Homo sapiens: one gene and its partner. The protein of the gene in region 1 purifies or fractionates together with the protein of each later gene. This does not show direct contact. Each region holds a gene or a part of one and is shown on either strand. Other genes may lie near its edges.

What was found.
Region 2: the proteins of KEL (region 1) and FLVCR1 purify together in Homo sapiens (affinity purification with mass spectrometry; one large-scale study listed by BioGRID and IntAct). This does not show direct contact.

Annotation. Positions count from the first base shown.
Region 1 is NC_000007.14:142,955,648-142,959,468, reverse strand, and holds part of KEL (kell blood group glycoprotein), read left to right. Parts: intron 1-1,040; coding exon 1,041-1,165; intron 1,166-1,495; coding exon 1,496-1,642; intron 1,643-3,821. UniProt on the Homo sapiens protein: Zinc endopeptidase with endothelin-3-converting enzyme activity. Cleaves EDN1, EDN2 and EDN3, with a marked preference for EDN3.
Region 2 is NC_000001.11:212,892,496-212,896,316, reverse strand, and holds part of FLVCR1 (choline/ethanolamine transporter FLVCR1), read right to left. Parts: intron 1,332-3,821; coding exon 1,264-1,331; intron 1,102-1,263; coding exon 1,027-1,101; 3' UTR 1-1,026.

The DNA of each region.
Region 1 (3,821 bases):
TCTCCTTTCTTCCCTGTCTTTTCCTTCTTGGTTTCTTCCCCACATTTCTTTTATTTTCCATATTGTCTTCTTCTCCTCATTCTCTTTCCCTGCTTTCATCATTTCATCAAGTTGATCCATTCCAAATTGGGCAGTCCTCTCATCTTTCTTATTTTCCTCATCTCTATTCCTCCCCCTCCTTCCATATTCTGTGGGAGTCTTTCTTTCCTGTAAGCTCCCTGTCTCCCACCCTCCCTCTTTGCCTCTATACCAGTTGCCACTCCTTTAATTCTCCTGCCGACAAAAAGAGTCAAACTCTGTAAAATATTTGAAAAGATTTATTTTGAGCCAAATATGAGTGACCATGGCCCATGATACAGTCCTCAGGAGATCCTGAGAACATGTGCCCAAGGTGGCTGGGGCACAGCTTGGTTTTATACATTTTAGAGAGTCATGAGACATCAATCAAATACATTTAAGAAATACATTGGTTTGGTCCAGAAAGGTGGAACAACTCAAAGGGGTGGGGGTGGCTTCCAGGGTACAGGTGAATTTAAACATTTCCGGATTGACAGTTGCTTGAGTTTGTCTAAAGATCTGGGATAGATAGAAAGGGAATGTTCAGGGTAAGATAAAGATTGCGGAGACCGAAGTTCTTTTGAAGTCTTATAGTGGCTGCCCTTAGAGACAATAGGTGACAAATGTTTCCTATTCAGATCTTAGTTAATCAAAAGATCTAGCTATGTTAATGAGATATGTTAATAGCTAATAGAGATGCTTTACAGATGCAAATTTTCCTCCACAAAGAACAGCTTTGCAGGGCCATTTCAAAATGTGGCAAAGAAACATGTTTTGGGGTAAAATATTTTTGTTTTCTTCTTTGTCTCGTAATGTTATGCCAGAATCAGGTTAGAAAGTAAATCATGTTACATGGGTTAAATAAAACCCATCTGATGAGAACTTATGATATAGGGCATGACTCCCCAGACCCCTTTGATAGGAATTTGGGGCAAGATAAAAAAAATCAGAGTTTAGTCCTCACTCCCATGCTTCCTTTCTAGAGGTCCAGAATTCCTGGCACCCAGGCTCTGGGGAGGAGAAAGCCTTCCAGTTCTACAACTCCTGCATGGATACACTTGCCATTGAAGCTGCAGGGACTGGTCCCCTCAGACAAGTTATTGAGGAGGTGAGAAAAGTTGGGATATTAACTTTTCTGGATACATAACATATGGGACCAATGCATGCTTAGGGCTGCCATTTTTTTTTCTAGAGGGTGGGTCTTCTTCCTAGGGCCCCCCAATTTCTAGGAGGGAGATGGAGATGGAAATGGTTATGCCCTATGAAAGTATCAGGACCTTGGGAGAAGGCAGATAAAAAAGGATAGATGTGGCTTCCTAGAGGAATCGAAGGGCGCAGGGCAGAGGTCAGGCAGTAGCAGCTGTGTAAGAGCCGATCCAGACAATGGGGGATGGGCTCCACGGATCCTTATGCTCAGCCCCCTCTCTCTCCTTTAAAGCTTGGAGGCTGGCGCATCTCTGGTAAATGGACTTCCTTAAACTTTAACCGAACGCTGAGACTTCTGATGAGTCAGTATGGCCATTTCCCTTTCTTCAGAGCCTACCTAGGACCTCATCCTGCCTCTCCACACACACCAGTCATCCAGGTGAGGGATGCACTGGCGAAGACACAGTTGGACCTGGCCTGCCTCCAACTCTAGCCAATCATCCCTTAGAGGAAGGTTGCAGGTTGGGAAGAGAGGACACCTGTGTGATATAGGAAACAACCCTACCTTAAGGGAAAATTATTGATGTGAAAGTCAGGGACATTAGCTGGGGGTGGGAAATGGAGCAGCAGAGCCAGTGCTGGGAAGACAGAAGTAGGCCTGGTCTTTCTTACTGTTAATCTGGATTAGTCTCAGAGCCCCTTAACCAGTCCTCCTATCTCTAGGATTGCCCTCATTTTATTTACTCTTTATTTTTACTAGAGGGAACTTTTCTAAACCAAGGGCTAACTAACTATGCTACTGTCTGTATTTAAATGCTTGTCAGTGACCCAGTGGCTTGCCAGGTCATCAGAATCTAGTCCCTAATCTTTAGTAAAGCTTTGCAAGCACCTTGTGATCTGACCCCTACACACTTCTCCAGCCTTATCTCCCGTACATTCCTTCTCTCCCTTACCCCCAAGCCATGCTGACTCACTGCTGCTTCCAGGAATATTCCTCAGTTCTTTGCCTATGCTGCTCCCTGTGCCTGCAACCATCCCCCACACTGAACCTGGAAAACTTACATGTTTTTCAAATGTTGGCTTTATTATCTCTTCCAGGAAGTCTTCACCGACACCCTAGTTATGAGTTAGGTGAAGCCCTGCTCTCCCTACTTTCGTTTCCTCATGCTCTCAGCATTTATCACTCTGTGTTGAAGATTGTGAGCCTCTTTAGAACAGGACCATGCTTTATTCACCTTTGTTTCTCAGGACCTATCACAGGGCCAGGCAGCTAGAAGTTTTGCCAGGTATTTGTAGTGAGTGAGTAACTAAATAAAAACACTGGAGCTATCACTCTTGTGGTTAAACAATGTAATGCTATCTGCATATTTGGGCCCTACTGTCAAAAGAGCCACAAAATTACCAAAGGATAAGTACAAAAGAAGAATTGATTATCATTATGAGGTGTTCTAAAATTTAGTTTTAAACAGTCTGCTCAGGAGTTTAACTGATGTGGCCTTTAGGGGCCGGTTAAGATCTGGTTAAGGAGAGGCTCAGAGAGGAGAGAATGAGAGAAGGTGAGCTAAGCCAGCCTTGAAACATGGTTAATTCACACAAGTGGAGGTGAAGCTATGGGGCGTTGGAAATGCTGAGCCAGGGGGAGGACCTGGAATGGTGTGATTCCTTCGTGGAGTCAGTGAGGAGGCTGATCTATTTAATTGAGGATTTGGGAGGCAAGGTGGGGTGCAGTGGGAGGTAAAAGTGAGACTGAAGACATAAGGTTGAGCCTGATTATTTCTAAGAAGCCAGGCGAAGGTGAAACATTTGACATAATAGAAAAAAAAAAAAGAGCTACTGAGGCCATCCAACTCTTATGACAATTGTGCATAGAGCAAGTATTTTGATGGTTGTGCGTAGAGTCAGCAGTTTTGAAGGTCAGTCTGGGGGTGTTGAGGAAACTAAATGAGCATTTTTGAGGCCCTGAGATAGAGGTAGAAATGGAAAGGAAGAGCCAGGCACAAGGATTTAGGCAACTTCACCCTAGTGATGATAGTTCATGCTGTTTCTAGAGGATTTGGTGACTGATTGGATATAAAGAAAGAAAGTGGGGGATTACACAGTGATCCCATTGTTTTGATTTAGTGTGAGTGGGAGGAGGGTGATTATCATCAGTGTGAGCCTGGATAGTCTCTTGGGTTAAAAGCAGGTAGGAAGAATGGACTACAGAAAGAGAAGTCCAAAGACTGAGGGCAGAAGGGAGCCAGGGAAGAGAGAGTACTATTGGAGAGATGGGAGCTAGACCAGTATGGTGGGCCACAAAGGAAAGAAAAGGAGCTTCAGGAAGGAGGGGTCAGCTCAGAGAAGAAGGAATGAGAAGACACCCTTGGATACCTAGAGATACTTTCCAAACAGTTATGGCAGTGGACACAGACTGCACAGAGCTTAGGAGGAAGATAAGAAAGTGGAAACAATGGGCATAGATGCTTTTTTGTTCTTTGAACTGTGGACATACAATGTAGCAAAAGGGTCAAGTGAAAGTTTTTTTCGAGACAGAAGGAAAAGTATATGGCTCAAGATAAGAGTGGGATATTGAAATTGGAGAAGAAAAGGGAAAGAGTAGAAGCAAAGATCTTCAGAAT
Region 2 (3,821 bases), on another chromosome or scaffold:
TAGCATTCAAGAGGTCTCCACTAAATGGGGACATGTAGGCTATCTGAAGTTATTATAGATTTCCTTATTTCAGGAATCTTCAAGGCAAAATATACGATGTGATACATGAAATCATGAAATAGCCAGTAACATACATGATGAAATTATCTTACTAGAAAGTTACACATCAGGAAAAAAAAAAAAAGAGAGTTTAAAAGAAAAAAAAGGCAATGGGTACAAAACTACTCTATCTCAAGTTGGAGTGAAAAAATACAGCGTTAGCATTTATCCATGATAGAAAGGCAGCACAGAAAAGAACTCAAGACAGAATGAACCTGTAACCAGGCTCCTTAATTAGAACATAATTCTAAGACCAAAGTCTGGGTAGAATCTGTACACAGAATAGTTTTTATAGCCATTGACTGCATGTGTTAAAAAGTACTTTGTAACAAGAGTACAATAAATGGGAAAAATCTTAGAGGTCATCTGAAAGCCTGATCCCAATGCTGTCCTTTGTGGGTGAGTAGTGTCATGTTGGTATGTTGTACTCAAACTGAAGTGGCTTGAACAGCTGGTCAGCACAGTGAAAAAGGCAGCCAATTAGGAATATATTGTACATTTAGTTCCACTGGATACTTTAATATATAAACTGCATGAACTATTATATCTTATGGGGACTGAACACCCCATATTATCACTTTAAAAAGTATTCTAAGCTTCCATTTTCTACAAAAAAGAAAAACATCGACTTTTAAAAAGTAAACGTCAAGAAGCTTACTTTCAGATACAATATGAGACTAAAAACCGGATACTAATTAGATAAACAGTAGTGTTAACATGATGTAAACAGAAGAATTTTAAGAAAATTTCCCTTAATTTAACAATTAAGCAAAATAATAATTATGCATTTAGAGTTCATATGGTAATTTTCAAGTAAGTGTGTTTATTCCCCCACCACATACAAACCCAGCCTTGGTGCTCACATCTCTCTCCAAGGATGATCACATTGTCCCCAATTACTACAGGACAGTAACTTTGCCTTTCTCTTCAAATTGCTGATTCTGACTGCTTGGACAACATAACCGTTTTTGGTTCTTGGTCTGTGGGACTGTCAGCTGGTATCTATAAAAACAATCAGAAGATTAAAAATGTATAGCATCTGGCATATCCTATTATAACAGATCAACAGTTGACTCGGGAGAAAAATAGCTAAATAAAAAAATATGGTTTCACATTTATTCTATACATACTTCTCAACAGTATAATCATAAAAATATTACTTACAGCTTTAACATCAACATTTGTAATTCCTATATTTATGTTGTGTCTTCGCAGATCAGACTTGATTAATGCTGAAACAGAGGGGCATCAAGTTACTATAAACTGTTATGTGAAGATTTTTTTAAAAAGCAGCTCAAAGTCTTTCTTGGTATTGTCAAATTTAATGCACTGTAGTGTCATGATATTTAATAGCATCCCAACAGCCTAAAAAATAATAGTACCTCTCTAAAGTTGTTAACAATTAATAAGTCATTCATTATTGAACAAATACGGGAATGCTAGCAACCAATGATACAAAAATGAAAAGTGTAATTCTTTTTCTTAAAGGACTCTCCAATCTAGGGAAACTTTGACATGTAAACAAGTATAACAGTGTGTGATAATTGCAAGGTATGGTGGGGAAGTGGGAGCAAAAAAAGTCTATGTCAGCCAAAGGAAATTAGAGAAGGCTTTCCAGAGAAGACATACTTGATACTGGAAAAAACTGAGTAATAACTTGTCAAGCAGACAAGAGGAGAGGAAGGCATTCTAGGCAGAAGGGAATGCAGGTATATCTCAGAGACATTGTGGGTTCAGCTCCAGATCACCACAAAAGAGTGAATATTGCTGGGCGTGGTGGGTCATGCCTGTAATCCCAGCACTTTGGGAGGCCGAGGTGGGTGGATCACAAGGTCAGAAGATCGAGACCATCCCGGCCAACACGGTGAAACTCCATCTCTACTAAAAACACAAAAAATTAGCCAGGCGTGGCGGCACGCACCTGTAGTCCCAACTACTAGGGAGGCTGAGACAGAAGAATCACTTGAACCTGGGAGGTGGAGGTTGCAGTGAGCAGAGATCGCACCACTGCACATATTTTTTGGTTTTCCAGTGCATAAAAAGTTATGTTTATACTATACTGTAGTCTATTTAAAGTTTGCAATAGCATTATGTCTAAAAAAAAAAATCAATCTACATGCCTTAATTTAAAAACACTTTACTGGCCAGGCTCAGTGGCTCATGCCTGTAATCCTAGCACTTTGAGAGGCCGAGGCGGGTGGATCACTTGAGGTCAGGAGTTCGAGACCAGCCTAGCCAACATAGTGAAACCCCCATCTCTACTAAAATACAAAAATTAGCTGGTTGTGGTGGTGGGCATCTGTAATCCCAGCTACTCAGGAGGCTGAGGCAGGAGAATCACTTGAACCCAGGAGGCAGAGGTTGCAGTGAGCCCAGATGGCGCCATTCCACTCCAGCCTGGGCAACAAGAGCGAAACTCCATCTCAAAAAAACAAAACAAAACAAAAAACACTTTACTGCTAAAAAATGCTAATGATTATCCAAGCCTTCTGCAAGTTATCTTTTTGCTGGTGGAGGGTCTTGCCTTGATGTTGATGGCTGCTGACAGATCAGGGTGGTGGTTGCTAAAAGGTGGGAGCGGCTGTGGCAATTTCTTAAAGTAAGACAGTGACGAAGTTTGCCGTATTAATCAACTCTTCCTTTCATGAAAGATCTCTCTGTGTGCAATACTTGTTTGATAACATTTTACCCACAAAACTTCCTCAAAACAGGAGTTGATCCTCTCAAACCCTGCCACTGCTTCATCAGCTAAGTTTATATAATATTCTAAATCCTTTGTTGTCATTTCAACATTTACAGCATCTTTACTAGTAGATTCCAACTCAAGAAAACACTTTCTTTGCTTATCCATAAGAAGCAACCCAGCCAGGCGCAGTGGCTGACACCTGTAATCCCAGCACTTTGGGAGGCCGAGGCAGGCAGATCACAAGGTCAGGAAATCAAAACCATCCTGGCTAACATGGTGAAACCCCGTCTCTACAAAAAATACAAAAAATTAGCCGGGCGTGGTGGCGGGCACCTGTAGTCCCAGCTACTCAGGAGGCTGAGGCAGGAGAATGGCCTGAACCCGGGAGGCAGAGCTTGCTGTGAGCCGAGATCACGCCACTGCACTCCAGCCTGGGCAACACAGCAACATTCCGGCACCCCCCCCCAAAAAAAAAGAAGCAACCCTTCATTTCTTCAGGTTTTACCATAAGATGCAGCAATTCAGTTACCTCTTCATATTCCACTTCTAATTCCAGTTCTCTTGTTATTCCCACCACATCTGCAGCTATTTCCTCCACTGAAGTCTTGAACACCTCAAAATCATCCATGAGAATGGGAATTAACTTCCTCCAAACTCCTGTTAATGTTGATAGTTTGACCTCCTCCCATGAATCAAGAATGTTCTTAATGGCATCTAGGATGGTGCATCCTTTCCAGAAAGTTCTCAATTTACTTTGCTCAGATCCAAGAGAGGAATAATTATTTCTGGCAGCTACAGCCTTTTGAAGTGTATTTCTTAAAGAATAAGACTTGAAAGTTGAAATTACTCCTTGATCCACGGGCTGCAGAAGGGATGCTGTGTTTCCAGACATGAAAGCAACATTGATCTCCTCGTACATCTTCATCAGAGCTCTTGGGTAAACAGGTGAATTGGTCAATGAGCAGTAGTATTTTGAAAGGAATGTTTTTCTCAGTAGCAGGCTTCAACAATGGGTTTAAAATATTCAGCAAACCAT